Linked DNA regions of Homo sapiens: all the other regions are linked to region 1. Evidence: fine-mapped expression QTL. A gene starts in region 1. Each other region holds a variant in brackets. All regions are shown on one strand. Distances are from middle to middle. Region 1 holds the start of AFF3 (ALF transcription elongation factor 3). Region 2 overlaps LYG2 (lysozyme g2). Region 3 overlaps AFF3 (ALF transcription elongation factor 3).

What was found.
Region 2: its variant is fine-mapped to the expression of AFF3 in anterior cingulate cortex (GTEx, PIP 0.93).
Region 3: its variant is fine-mapped to the expression of AFF3 in whole blood (TOPMed, PIP 0.95).

What each region holds. Positions count from the first base shown.
Region 1 is chr2:100,140,603-100,144,961 of GRCh38, forward strand. It overlaps AFF3 (ALF transcription elongation factor 3), which reads right to left and starts at 1,988. Exons shown (of 25, transcript NM_001386135.1): 1 at 1,882-1,988.
Region 2 is chr2:99,250,839-99,255,197 of GRCh38, forward strand. It overlaps LYG2 (lysozyme g2), which reads right to left. Exons shown (of 7, transcript NM_175735.4): 2 at 4,182-4,299; 3 at 3,380-3,447. The coding sequence starts at 3,422. Among named protein-coding and RNA genes, the nearest start is that of LYG2, 2.6 kb to the right of the region's middle. The variant G/C (reference allele first, on the strand shown) is at 1,916.
Region 3 is chr2:99,557,009-99,561,008 of GRCh38, forward strand. AFF3 (ALF transcription elongation factor 3) reads right to left here. Exons shown (of 25, transcript NM_001386135.1): 21 at 3,357-3,428; 22 at 1,867-1,960. Among named protein-coding and RNA genes, the nearest start is that of REV1, 69 kb to the left of the region's middle. The variant C/G (reference allele first, on the strand shown) is at 2,356.

The sequences.
Region 1 (4,359 bases):
AAAATGCCGAGCACCACGTCTCACACCTGAGAGGCACTGAATGCATGTTATATACTATCATTTGGATGTCACCGTTCCATGTGCCTATTTCCTGGTTTGCTGTACAAGATGTGTATGAGTACATGTCATCAAGCCCACAGAGCTCCAGAACATGTTCCTCTCACAAGCAGGCCTCATAGGGAGGGGTGTTCTGTGCTGTTCCTCTTTCCTGCTCACTACTTGTCTGTAGCTACAGTGTAAGGACTGTAATGTCACTGCTCTGGCCTTAAGTGTCACCCCCCAAACCCATTTTACACACACCACCTCCCACCTTTCACCTTTCCCAAACTCTTACCATGTCCCTTCAAGTTTGATGGCTTAATTGTACAAAAGGTAGTGATGATGATGATGATGATGATGACAATGATAACAGCTGCTAATACTTACTGAGCCCTTTCAATGTTCCAGGCACTTGTCTAAGCACTTTACATGTATTAGCTTATTTAATTCTTAAGAGGAAGGGATTACTATCTACTATTGTACTTGTGTTACAGATGTGGGAACTCCGATGCAGAGATGTATAGTGACTTGCCTAAAACCATCATGTTAGAGTGGGAATTTAAACCTTGAAATCTGGAAAATAAGCAATGTATATATTTTTCTATTTTCTAAATGCAAATCAAATATACATATGCATAACACCACTAAACACTAAGTGCAGTTACGCCTAGAACAAGGGAATAGCAGTTGACAGAAACACAACCAAAACTAAGAATATTAAATGTCTGTATTACTTTCACTGTAATCACTTCACTTCAACAGTGAGATGGGATAGCCCTAGGTAAAGGAAGGTGCTCTTGTAGTTAGAACATTCTTAAATTTTGCACCAAGGAACACATGCTTTTAATAATGGCAGAGACAACATTTTTTGATGGATTATTTAGTTTGTACGATCAACATTCAAAGAATGAGTTTACCACCACTTTGTTATTGTAAACACTTGACCTTTAGCTACCTGAATGATCCCCTCTTTGAATAAAAGGAATTATGAAACACATGTGTAGACATATTTCATTTTTATATATGTGAGACTCGAATAGCAAGGAAATCACATATTAGGAAAAAAACCCCTTTGTCTTGCTATTAGTTCTCTTTGGTTTCAAAAATCTGGTCACTGTGTATATTGCATTATATCATATGTGTGTGTACATATATATACACACATAAACACACATACACACAATGTCATGTGTATAAATACATGATGTGTTTATGCACATACACAGACACACACACACAAATACACACATATACAATGTTCCATCCAAGAAATACAAATATAGTGCTGTTAGCCCCTAACAGTGAGGAGGTCATTATTCCAAGTCATTTCTGCAGAAGTGACGGTGGCCTTAGGTGGAACTGCCCATGATCTCTCCTTGCAAGCTCACTCACTGGGGCCATTGACTGGGATCCAGTCTGTGGCCATGTCATGGTTTCTATTTTTGAGGTTATAGCTAATGAGCAACATGAGGTTAAGACACACTTTTCATAAGGCCCCAGCCAGCATCATAAATATGTGTGTGAGCATGTTCACACTCAGGTTATGTCTTCTTTATGTGCACCCTCTACCACACACACACACACACATGCACACGCACACACACTGACGGCTTCAGTGACCAACTTTGGTCACATCCCATCTCTTCCTTCTCAATCCCTCTGGCTGTTCACCAGGGCCTGGACCATCTCGGTGAGGCTGACCAAGAATGCTCCCCCTGCCCTGACCAGCGGAGCATGGGCACAGCTACTTAGAGCGCCACCCTTCAGGACACAAAGTCGGGGCTACCTCTCTTCCAGGCAAGGCATCCTAGAGGGCCCGCACACCCTCCAGTTTGATCTTACCTCTCAGCTCCCGTTCCTTTTCTTTCTCTCCCCAGTAAGTCGTTGAACGTCTTTCTTCTGAGGCTGAGCGTGGAGCTCTCTTCTCGCTGGCGAGCTTTCTGAATGGCACTTTCTGTACAAACAGGAAGAGCATGTGTGGTCACAACCCAAGTGTGCAGGTGTTGATAGAGGATGTGAAAGTGTGGAGGCGAGTGACTAAACCAGATACCCAACCGGCCAACTCTCACTTGTGGCAGGGCCTGGTCTACCAGAAGGCTGGAAGCAGGAACCTGGACTCTACTCTGGGGAGACCAACTGACAAAAGCAGAGGATGGTGGCCCTGGAGGCCAAGGGAGAAGGTCTCTTTGACTCCTGTGCTTTCTAACCCTATGCAGACCCATAAAAGAATCCCAGGAACATTTTGGAATCTCTTAGATATATGATTATCAAGAATGTTGATTTCAATGGGCTGCTTAACTTGTCCAAAGCTCTGCTGGTTTCCCAGGCTGTCTGGGCCTCCAAGAGATCAGGACCAAAGGCTCATCCTGCATTGGAACTGTGACAAGTCTTCCAGACCTTTCTAGAACAAAGCTACACCAGGAAAGAAGAGTCTTAGGCAAGGAATCAGATGTCCTAAGGCTGCTCTACATGACCTACATGATGGGTGTTACCTCCTCATCTCCCATTCAGTCAACCCACGGGCACTGGACTTCCTGCCCGACACCCTTCCCTCTCCCCATTCATGCCTGGAATTATTTTCACTAATGACACCAGGGATTCACTAATGGATGCTTTTTCAGTTCCTGTCCTATTTGTCTCCACTGGCAGTGTTTGACTTCCCTGTAGTGTTGACCATTTCTTTCCTCCCAGAACTTCTGCCTGGGCCGCCATGACTCCATACTCTCCTGGTTTTTGTCAGGCGGTCTCTCACACTGGCAGGCTTCCATTCTTTGGTCTTAATTTTCGCCCTCCTGCAAGCTCCACTCTCCGCCTCATGGTTCCTGTTCTCCATGGGTGGCCTCTTCCCAGCTCCAGATGGAACTTGCCAAGCCCACATCCATAGCATCACACATTTCTGCTGTTCTCCTGGAACATCCCCCAGCACCTCCCGTCAGACTCGCCACAATGAAACCCTGCTCTGTCCTCTACCCCACTCATTACTTACCATGTGGCCTGTGAATTCCCTCCTGCCTTGTCCCAGCTTGCTCCTCAGGTCTCTACCCCCTTCTGAGTTTACCACCTTCTGATCTCTCACTTTGCCTCTGCTAATCTGGCTTCTTCAGGTTTGACCCTCCATTATCCTCATCCAAACAGGCCCGTCCTTATCCTGAGAATGGATACCTAGAAACTTCCCCACCCAGTCCTATCCCAAGCCCTGGGAAATTATCCCAGTATTGTCTGCCTCATGTCCCTGGCAAGGAGAAAACGTTTCTTTATCTTATACCCAAACCAGAAATGGGGAGGCTTCCCACGTTCTTCTCTTTGCTGAATACTCTTCAACCTTCCATCACCAAGCCCTGCCCATTCTACCTCTTCAGTCACTCCTCAGATCCTTCTTCCCGTCCGCATCTCCACAGCCACACCCTCCCTCCATTGCCTCTCATCACTGCCCTAATCCCCAAGGGGTACGTGCACCCAGGGCACACCAGACCGTTCACTGAAGGATGAGAAGAAAGGAATTGAATGTCTATCTACCCACACTTGTCTGGTTTTTGTATTTAATTAAGACTCACATACCATAAAATGAGCCGTTTTAAGATGGGGAATCCTGTGGCATTGAGTACACTCACAATGCTGTGCAGCCACCACCTCCATCGAGTTCCCAGACTTACATCTATTTTTACGTCATGTTTTTAGTGTTTACATTTTGTGTATGTTTCAAGGCATGCAATGTGTGAATACAGTTGTATTGTATATCATTTGTGAATAATCATACATCTGCTCAGAATAGGCGGCAAAGACTTTTTTGCTGAAGAAGATACAAAATTAGAAAAGTGGGGACACGTGACCTCCTAACTCATCTCTCACATGTCAGGCTCTAGAGTGTTTTCCAAACTGCCTCCAAATTTTCTCTGCAAAAGACTACAAAAATGATGACAGTACACTCCCCTCACCCCACGACCAGTCCTTAAACGCTTCAATGGCTCCCTGTCACCCACAGGAAAATCCCAAGGCTCCATCGCTGGGCAGGCGAGATGTTGGATTCAGTGGCCTCTGCCCACTCCCCAATACCATCTCTTGCCATCCTTGATACCACTTCCTTCCTCACCACCCAACAATCCCACCACCACTCATGGTTTCTTGAACTTTCAGGCTGCTTTATGTCACAGCTTTGCACATGCTATTTCCTCTTTCAGGGTGCCTTCACTTCCATTGGCTATCTGGCAGATCCCCATGGATATTAAAAACCCTTCCATCCTGCTCATCTCAAAGCAGAATTCCTCACCTGTGCGGGCTGAAGCCATTGCCTTCATGTTAGATGATACTATGGGCAATTTG
Region 2 (4,359 bases), 890 kb before region 1:
CAAATGTCATTAATTTAGGGACTGGTTGAGTAAGTGATGCTACGTCCACAGTGGAGCACTATGCAGCTGCAAAAGGAAAGAATAAGACCTGTATATACTCCTGTAAAATTCTCTCCAGGGACAAAATAGTATTTATAGAATTGTACTCTTTGTGTAAGAAAGGTAAGAAAATACAATCGTATATTTTGTGTGATTTGCTCATATTTTCAAAAGAAACAATACAAGGATGAATGAAAAACTGATAAAAATTGTTAGTTATGGAGAGAGTAAGAGGAAGGTAAAGGGAACAGGGATAGGGGATAGACTAACTATCTTTTTTAAAGTTTTTATTTTGGAACCATGTAAATGTTATCATAAATTTTAAAATTAAATCAAATGGGGAAAAATGGAATCATAAAAAAGAAGAACAAATGAACATAACTCTATAACAAATTGAAAGATTAATAAACACATAGAGGAGAATTATCTTAAGTGACTTTAAAATATATCCATATAAGTCTATACCACTACATAGGAATCCATCCTGTGAACATAAATAATCACAAGAAAATCTTAAATTATATTTACTGTCTCATTGTTGGTTGGTAATACTGTCATACTTATTTTGACACTATTGTATGTAAATAAGTAATAATGCTAATGTCATTAGAACTAGGATTTTTAGTGTAAGATAGCAGAGGTACAAATATAAAACTGATGTAAAATGCTTGCATTCTTAAATATAAATGTGAAATATCTGAATGCATAGTTGTTTTCCTTTTAAAAATATATATTTTCTAGTTCCTGCCACTGAAAACACCTGAAATAAACGACAGCTCCATAGCAATGGAGCACTTTTACTTCCCACACTGTGGTCTCTAAATACCATTTCCTGCTAAGTGGAACCAGCGCTCCTCAGAATAATGGCTGATTGCCTGCCTGGGGCAGGAAATGTTCAAGATGAACCAGGAACATCTTTTTGTGCCAGAGCTGGTCCTTATATGTTAGAGACACATTAAAAAAAAAAATTTTTTTTTCCAGATGGAGTCTCACTCTGTCGCCCAGGCTGGAGTGCAGTGGCCATTCTCCTGCCTCAGCCTCCCAAGTAGCTGGGACTACAGGTGCCTGCCACCACACCTGGCTAATTTTTTGTATTTTTAGTAGAGATGGTGTATCACTGTGTTAGCCAGGATGGTCTCAATCTCCTGACCTCTTGATCCGCCTGCCTCGGCCTCCCAAAGTGCAGGGATTACAGGTGTGAGCCACCGTGCCCAGCCCAAAAATTTTTACAGGTGAAATGTTTTTATCTCACTGCAAGCTCCGCCTCCCAAGTTCATGCCATTCTCCTGCCTCAGCCTCCCAAGTAGCTGGGACTACAGGTGCCTGCCACCACACCTGGCTAATTTTTTGTATTTTTAGTAGAGATGGTGTATCACTGTGTTAGCCAGGATGGTCTCAATCTCCTGACCTCTTGATCCGCCTGCCTCGGCCTCCCAAAGTGCAGGGATTACAGGTGTGAGCCACCGTGCCCAGCCCAAAAATTTTTACAGGTGAAATGTTTTTATCTCCCTCCCTTCCTCTCACTCTTTCCCTCTCTCTTCCCTTTTTCCTCTCACTCTCTTACTGTTCGTTCCTCTCACTAGAAGATAAATTTCATTAGGTCAGATACTAGATGTTTTTCTCTGCTATATCCTCCTCAGCACCTGGAACAATGCTTGGCACAAAGTAGACATTTAATAAACATTTGCTGAATGGAAGAATGGATAGTTGGATGGATGAAGGAATGAGACAGAAAGGGATTGTTTAAATTATCTGGATCAAGTGTCCTTATATTGACAGGTTCAGTATCCTTTCACTGGGAGGCAGTCTTTGCCAGGCTCACTGTGTGGCCCACAGACCACAGGCATCAAAGTTACCCAGGAAGCTTATTAAAAAT[G/C]CTTATCACTGGGCCGGGCGTGGTGGCTCACACCTATAATCCCAGCACTTTGGGAGGCCAAGGCGGACGGATCACGAGGTCAGGAGATCAAGACCATCCTGGGTAACACAGTGAAACCCTGTCTCTACTAAAAATACAAAAAAATTAGCTGGGCATGATGGTGGGCGCCTGTAGTCCCAGCTACTTGGGAGGCTGAGGCAGAAGAATGGTATGAACCCAGGAGGCAGAGCTTGCAGTGAGCTGAGATCGCACCACTGCACTCTCCAGCCTGGGCGACAGAGCAAGACTCTGTCTCAAAAAAAAAAAAAAAAAAAAAGGCTTATCACTGGGCTTTTCACACCAGATCTACTGCACCAAAATCTTGCAGTATAAGGCGAAAGAAGCTGCCTTTTACCCAGCATTCCCAGTTGACTCTTACACATGTTTATGAACCACTGCTTTAAGGGAACTGGAATATGACCATGGACCCTACGCTGCCTGTGTAGGCCTTATAAACACACAAGCCCTTTTTAAATTAAGAGTCACCTTTCAGCTATACACAGCTAATATGGTAGCTCATAATTAATCTACTGGCTATTTAACTCTGCTCTCACCTGGCAATCTAAAAAGAGTAAAAATTTAAAACTATGTTGCCCTGTTTTGACCATAAGTAACTGGAAATTACTTTCGGGTAGCCTTGTTTTTCCAAATTTAGAATTAAACATTTTAGAAACACTTTCCTTTCAGTCACCATTCTATAATTAAAGACAACTTGAACATTGCTCATAATGGCTTTTCATTTTGCTTAGGTCAGAGTTTTCACATTCTCTTATTCAAGATCCCTTACCAACTTACCAACCTATCTTTCCAGCCTTCCCCCCAGAAACCCCCTCGTCTGTCCAGACCACACTGACCCAAAGACTTTTCATTCATTTCTGCCTCTGCTTTTTTACTGAAATCTTTCTTCCCATCCAGCAGGCTCTTCCTTTTTCTTATTAAATCACCAAGCATCCTTCAATTGACATGTCCCCCCCAAAAGCCTTTCACATCTGAGCATTCTAGTTGGATGTGAGCTCTTCCTCCCAAACCTTTCCCAGACTAGTGCTTTTTTCCCACCTATACACATTGAACTCTCATCCACTGCTTGGCATTGATAATTGTCTCTTCATGTGTTTTGCTTCCAAGGCACTGTTCCATATACCTCTCGGTAAGGTATCCAGCCTGATAGGTGCATTGTCAGACAGGAAGTAAGCAGATCAATAAATATTAGATTATTTGAAATTCCCATAGATCCTGTTTTTCACCTGCTTAGCAAGCAGAACACACTGTTAATTATAGAAATAATAGTTGATTAATGGCCAAGCTGGTCAGAATGAGAGCCCACTCTTCCATTACAGGTAATCATTGCTCTTTCTGATTCATGATTGTGCTGGAGGTTTTTGTGGACACCCTGTGAACAATGCTAAATCTCAGCCAGTGACTTACCAATGAGGGCAATTAGTCCCCAAAACACCACGGAGGATAACATGGCGGGGAATCTTATCTTCCAGGACCTGCTCTGATTTGAAATAGAAACTGGTTAATTTTAAAACCTGAAAATTTCCTAAAGAAAAATTTGCTTTGATATTTTAAAAAGTTTAGAGTTATTTCCAATTCACTACTCATTTCCCTGTTTCAAGATAGTATTCTCACAGGCTCAGTACATAGTTTGTTGGCACACTCTCTTTCTTAAGCATAAACTCCTAATCTCACTTCAATCCAATTTCATATTGACATGAGTCATGCGTATCTTACATATGTAACTAAATATACACTCCCATCCCACCTCTAAGCTTGGTAACACCACAATTTTGTTCCCTTTCTTTTTAAAAAAAAAAATACTGATCTTTTCATTCTAGTTATTCACCCTACCCCTGGCTTCAAGGATCAGTTTTGGTCTTTCATTCATTTATTTAGAAATGGGATCTTGCTCTGTCACCCAGGCTGGAGTGCAGTGGCATAATCATAGCTCACTATGGCCTCAAACTCCTGGGCTCAAGCGATCCTCCCACCTCAGCCTCCTGAGTAGCTGGGGCGACATATGCGTGCCACCATGCCTGGGTGTTTCCATTCTTATACCAGGGTCTCCGTAGGGAAAACAAAATAAAACAAAATACCAACAGGAGCATGAGAACGTGACTTAGAAGAGGTTTCCTCTGCTCCATTTCTTCCTCAATCAACTCTATTCTTGGTTTCATTCAAATGGTAGCTTATAAGTTTTACAAGACATAAGAAGGCCAGCACTAACCTTGTTTGCAACCTTACAGAGAAAATCTCCCCTCTCTGTTTGCAAAGGTCTTCTGTACTCAGCAGCAAACTGCACTTCAAGCTTTTACAAAGCGACGGCCTTTGTCCTGTAACATAGGCTTAACAATTGGAGAATCCATTAGTCAGTAGATCACTGCGCACCTGGCTTCAACAGAGTA
Region 3 (4,000 bases), 580 kb before region 1:
AATAATGATATATAGTATACTTGAAAATCTCTAAAAGAATCGATTTTAAATGTTCCCATCACAAAAACGGTAAGTATGTGAGGTGATGGATATGTTAATTAGCTTGGTTTAATCATTCCACAATGTATAAATATATCAAAACATCACATTATACATAAGTACACGCAATTTGTTGTTGATTAATTAAAAAAATTTTAAAAATAGCTTTTGATGAAGGGTAAATGACATTAATTCCTTGAGGAGCAACTCTGATTTTCTGGTTGTGTTTTCCTTTTTTTTTTTTTTTTTTGAGACAAAGTCTCACTCTGTCGCCCAGGCTGGAGTGCAGTGGCGCCATCTCTGCTCACTGCAACCTCTGCCTCCCGGGTTCAAACGATTCTCGTGCCTCAGCCTCCCTAGTAGCTAGGATTACAGATGCCTGCCACCACGCCTGGCGTGTTTTCTACCCATTCTGTATGTATTAGTGGGCTGCAGAGAATATTAAGAACTTGTATCCCTTAAAAGTTTGTTGTAGCCCCTGGCGGCTTACAGAATTCAGCTTCCTTCTTTATTCAAGCATTTTCCTTGACTGTAATAATTCTCTTTAGTAGTAGATCTTACGTTCTGGATTTTTGAACACTATTGATGTTGACTTTAGGCACCTGAAGGAAAGGGAAGGCTCAGTGCTGGTTCTTGTCCTGAAGACACAGGACGGTCAATGGGCTGAGAAAGTGATGTCCATGGCCTAGCACCTGGTTACTCTACATGCACAATTGGAAGGCAGTGTGCTGAACATACCCCAGGAACCCCCAGCACAGCCTGGCCATTAGAGATCACCTCTAGAGGAGGTTGGGCATGAACAGATCTCAAATGATGGTTGTGTATCTGACAAAGGGCTGTTGGAGATAGAGACGGCATAATTTCTAGTTTCTATAGATAAACAGAGAAGAGGACCAGAAATCTCAAATTAATTATTAATGTAAGGTCGACCTCACAACAGTACATCAGCGAAGGCTTTTAAAAATTTATTCTCCCAGTGAAAATAATTTCATTCCCTGAGATAAGTAAAAGGTGGCATGGTTTGCAATTTTATCCCTATAGCTACACACTGCTATCTACTGCTTCTGAGTTCTAACAAGCCATCTCTTACCATTTTAAATAACGCCATTAAAAATTAAATAAGCTACTAGAGACTGGCTAAGAGGGAATGGCTCTAAGGGGTTACTTCTAAGGAAAAGAAGCTCTAAGTGAGCATGAGGAATTTATGTTAGCTATAAAGATGAATTTCCTAGGACAGTGGAACGAGTAACTGGATCTTCTTTCTCTTGAAGCCATAAAAATACCTGGACAAGGCTGGGCGTGGTGGCTCACACCTGTATTCCTAGCACTCTGGGAGGTGGAGGCGGGGAGATCACCTGAGGTCAGGAGTTCGAGACCAGCATGACCAACATGGTGAAACCCCATCTCTACTAAAAATACAAAATTAGCCAGGCGTGGTGGTGTGCGCCTGTAATCTGAGCTACTTGGGAGGCTGAGGCAGGAGAATTGCTTGAACCCAGGAGGCGGAGGTTGCAGTGAGCCGAGATCGCACCATTGCACTGCAGCCTGGGCAACAAAGAGTGAAACTCTGTCTCCAAAAATACATAAAAAAATAAAAATAAAAAAATAAAAATACTTGGACAAGAAGGCAGGGAGATACATTAGATGGGCTCTCAAAGGTCCATTCTGAGGCCTGAAAGCCACAAGTGTGGCATAAATGGGGTTACCTTGGGGACCAGAGGTGACCTGCATTAACCCCAAAGCAATGGAGTCTACCAGGTGCTTCACAAATTTGACAGGGAGACAAGTGAAATTAAGGAACAATTCTGCTCATTCACTAGACAGTACCTTGAAATAGTCGATTAGTGCTTTTGAATACTTTACAGCGTGGTCCCTTTTGAGTCGAAACATCCGCCAGTACAGGAGGGCCAGGCATCGGTAACTGCAGGCGAAAAGAGAAACAGGCCCAGAAGCGGCTGAGTGCGTCGTGCGCAAACAAGACTTAAACATTTTTGTTGTTGTTCTAAGGTACTCAATAACAATACCTTGTTTCTACATAGGAAATCTTTCTATACGTGCATATAATGTCTGTGAGGGAACATCTTTTGTCCAAAAATAGAATTCAAAATTCCAAGAAGGTATTCCATAAATACATTTATCACTAGATAATTTTACAGCATTAGGTGAATCACTCTGTTGGGTCACAGGGGCCGGCCGCTTCCTTCTTCCACCACGAGAGGGCGCTGTCTCTCCACGAGAGGCGCGAGGTAGCTCTAGTACGCAGCCTTCACTGCTTCGCGGGCGAGCCCCGCTCTGCGGAAAGGACGACGCTGCCAC[C/G]TGATGTTACTGAACTATAAGCAGCTCCACTAAAGTCACAAACATGAATGTACTTTATAAACAACAAAAACACTATGCTGGGAATAGGTGCCATCATTATAAACAACAAAAACACTATGCTGGGAATAGGTGCCATCATTTTATTATTTCCTATAATATTTTGTATACTTATTTATATATCAGTATTCTATCTTATATAATCATATTATTGTCATTTAGTGTATTATTCCAATATGGGACTTAAAGTTTGAAAGGGGCACAAAAGGCGTTTCTGAGACTTATCCTCTCTTCCTTGGAGCTCTTCACTCAGTTATTTGCTAACTCGGATCTGATGCTGACATCCAGAATACCAACATTCTGGGTGCAATGGCACCATCTCCTCCTACCAACCAAATCCAGGACAGGTAACAATTTGAGACCTTTTTTGTGTCTGTTGCTGTTATTATTATTTTTTAATTCAACTGTCTTTATTTCACTGCTTGGTAGACATGTATTCTATCAACATTCTCTGCCTTCCACCTACTGATGAGTAAGAAAGGGCTGACAGGTAAAGGAACTATAGGTTACCCGATCGTTCCCTTTTTTCTGTGGCATCATTTTCAAAGTAAGCGGCTGCGCCGGGTGCGATGGCTCACGCCTGTAATCCCAGCACTCTGGGAGGCTGAGGCAGGCAGATCACTTGAGGTCAGGAGTTCAAGACCAGCCTGACCAACATGGTGAAACCCCATCTCTACTAAAAATACAAAAATTAGGCCGGGCACAGTGGCTCATGCCTGTAATCCCAGCACTTTGGTAGGCCTGTCGATTTTCAATCACTGTGAATTCAGATCATGTATAGTACGGCAGCAAAAAATGGTCTGGACTTTCCCTGGTCATTAGAACTGCTCTGGGGCTTTGTATGTTAGAAGACATTGGGCAAACACTATGCCTTTCAGCACCTGGTTTGCCAATGATGGCATGCGAGGCTGGGGCTGCTATTCTAAGCGGAGATGGGCACTCACCATAATGCAGCCAGTTGTTTGTCTTCTGGTGTGGCATTGGGGCCTGAGTGGGTTTTTAGTCTCATAGCATACCTTAGAAAAAGCGGGGAGGAGGAATAGAATAAAAAACATAAAAAGCAAAGAAATAGTAAAACTAGCTTTTTTATTAACAGAACTTCTATGATGGTAGTTCTCCCTGCCTGATCCTTAGCTTTTCATAGTACTTGCTGATAATTCTTTCTTAAAAGCTAGCTGGTGCTGCTCCATTTTCCCAAGTATTACATTACTGTGATGACTAGAACAGCTACTTTCTGCTCTTTAACAGTACAAGTTCAAATGCTACAGATTGTCGGGAGTGATACCAGTTCAAGAACTATTCATGTATATGCTAACATGTCCATTTTTCCACATTTTGATTTATGGCTGAGTGTCTGACAGATGGAGGTGAAGTTCTATCCTTCTGTGCTTACCTCCAGAAGAATTTCCATCCTGGGTATGCAGAGGAATGCTTAGATTTACCCCTCTTTCTTTGTTATGTAACTTTTACTTTGACAGCTACATAAGTGTCCTGAGTACATTTTTAATCTCTGTTTGCTTCTACAGACAGATACTACGAGAAACTAGTGGCTTTTATGGACTGCACTTAATTCCATTTATTTTTCTGA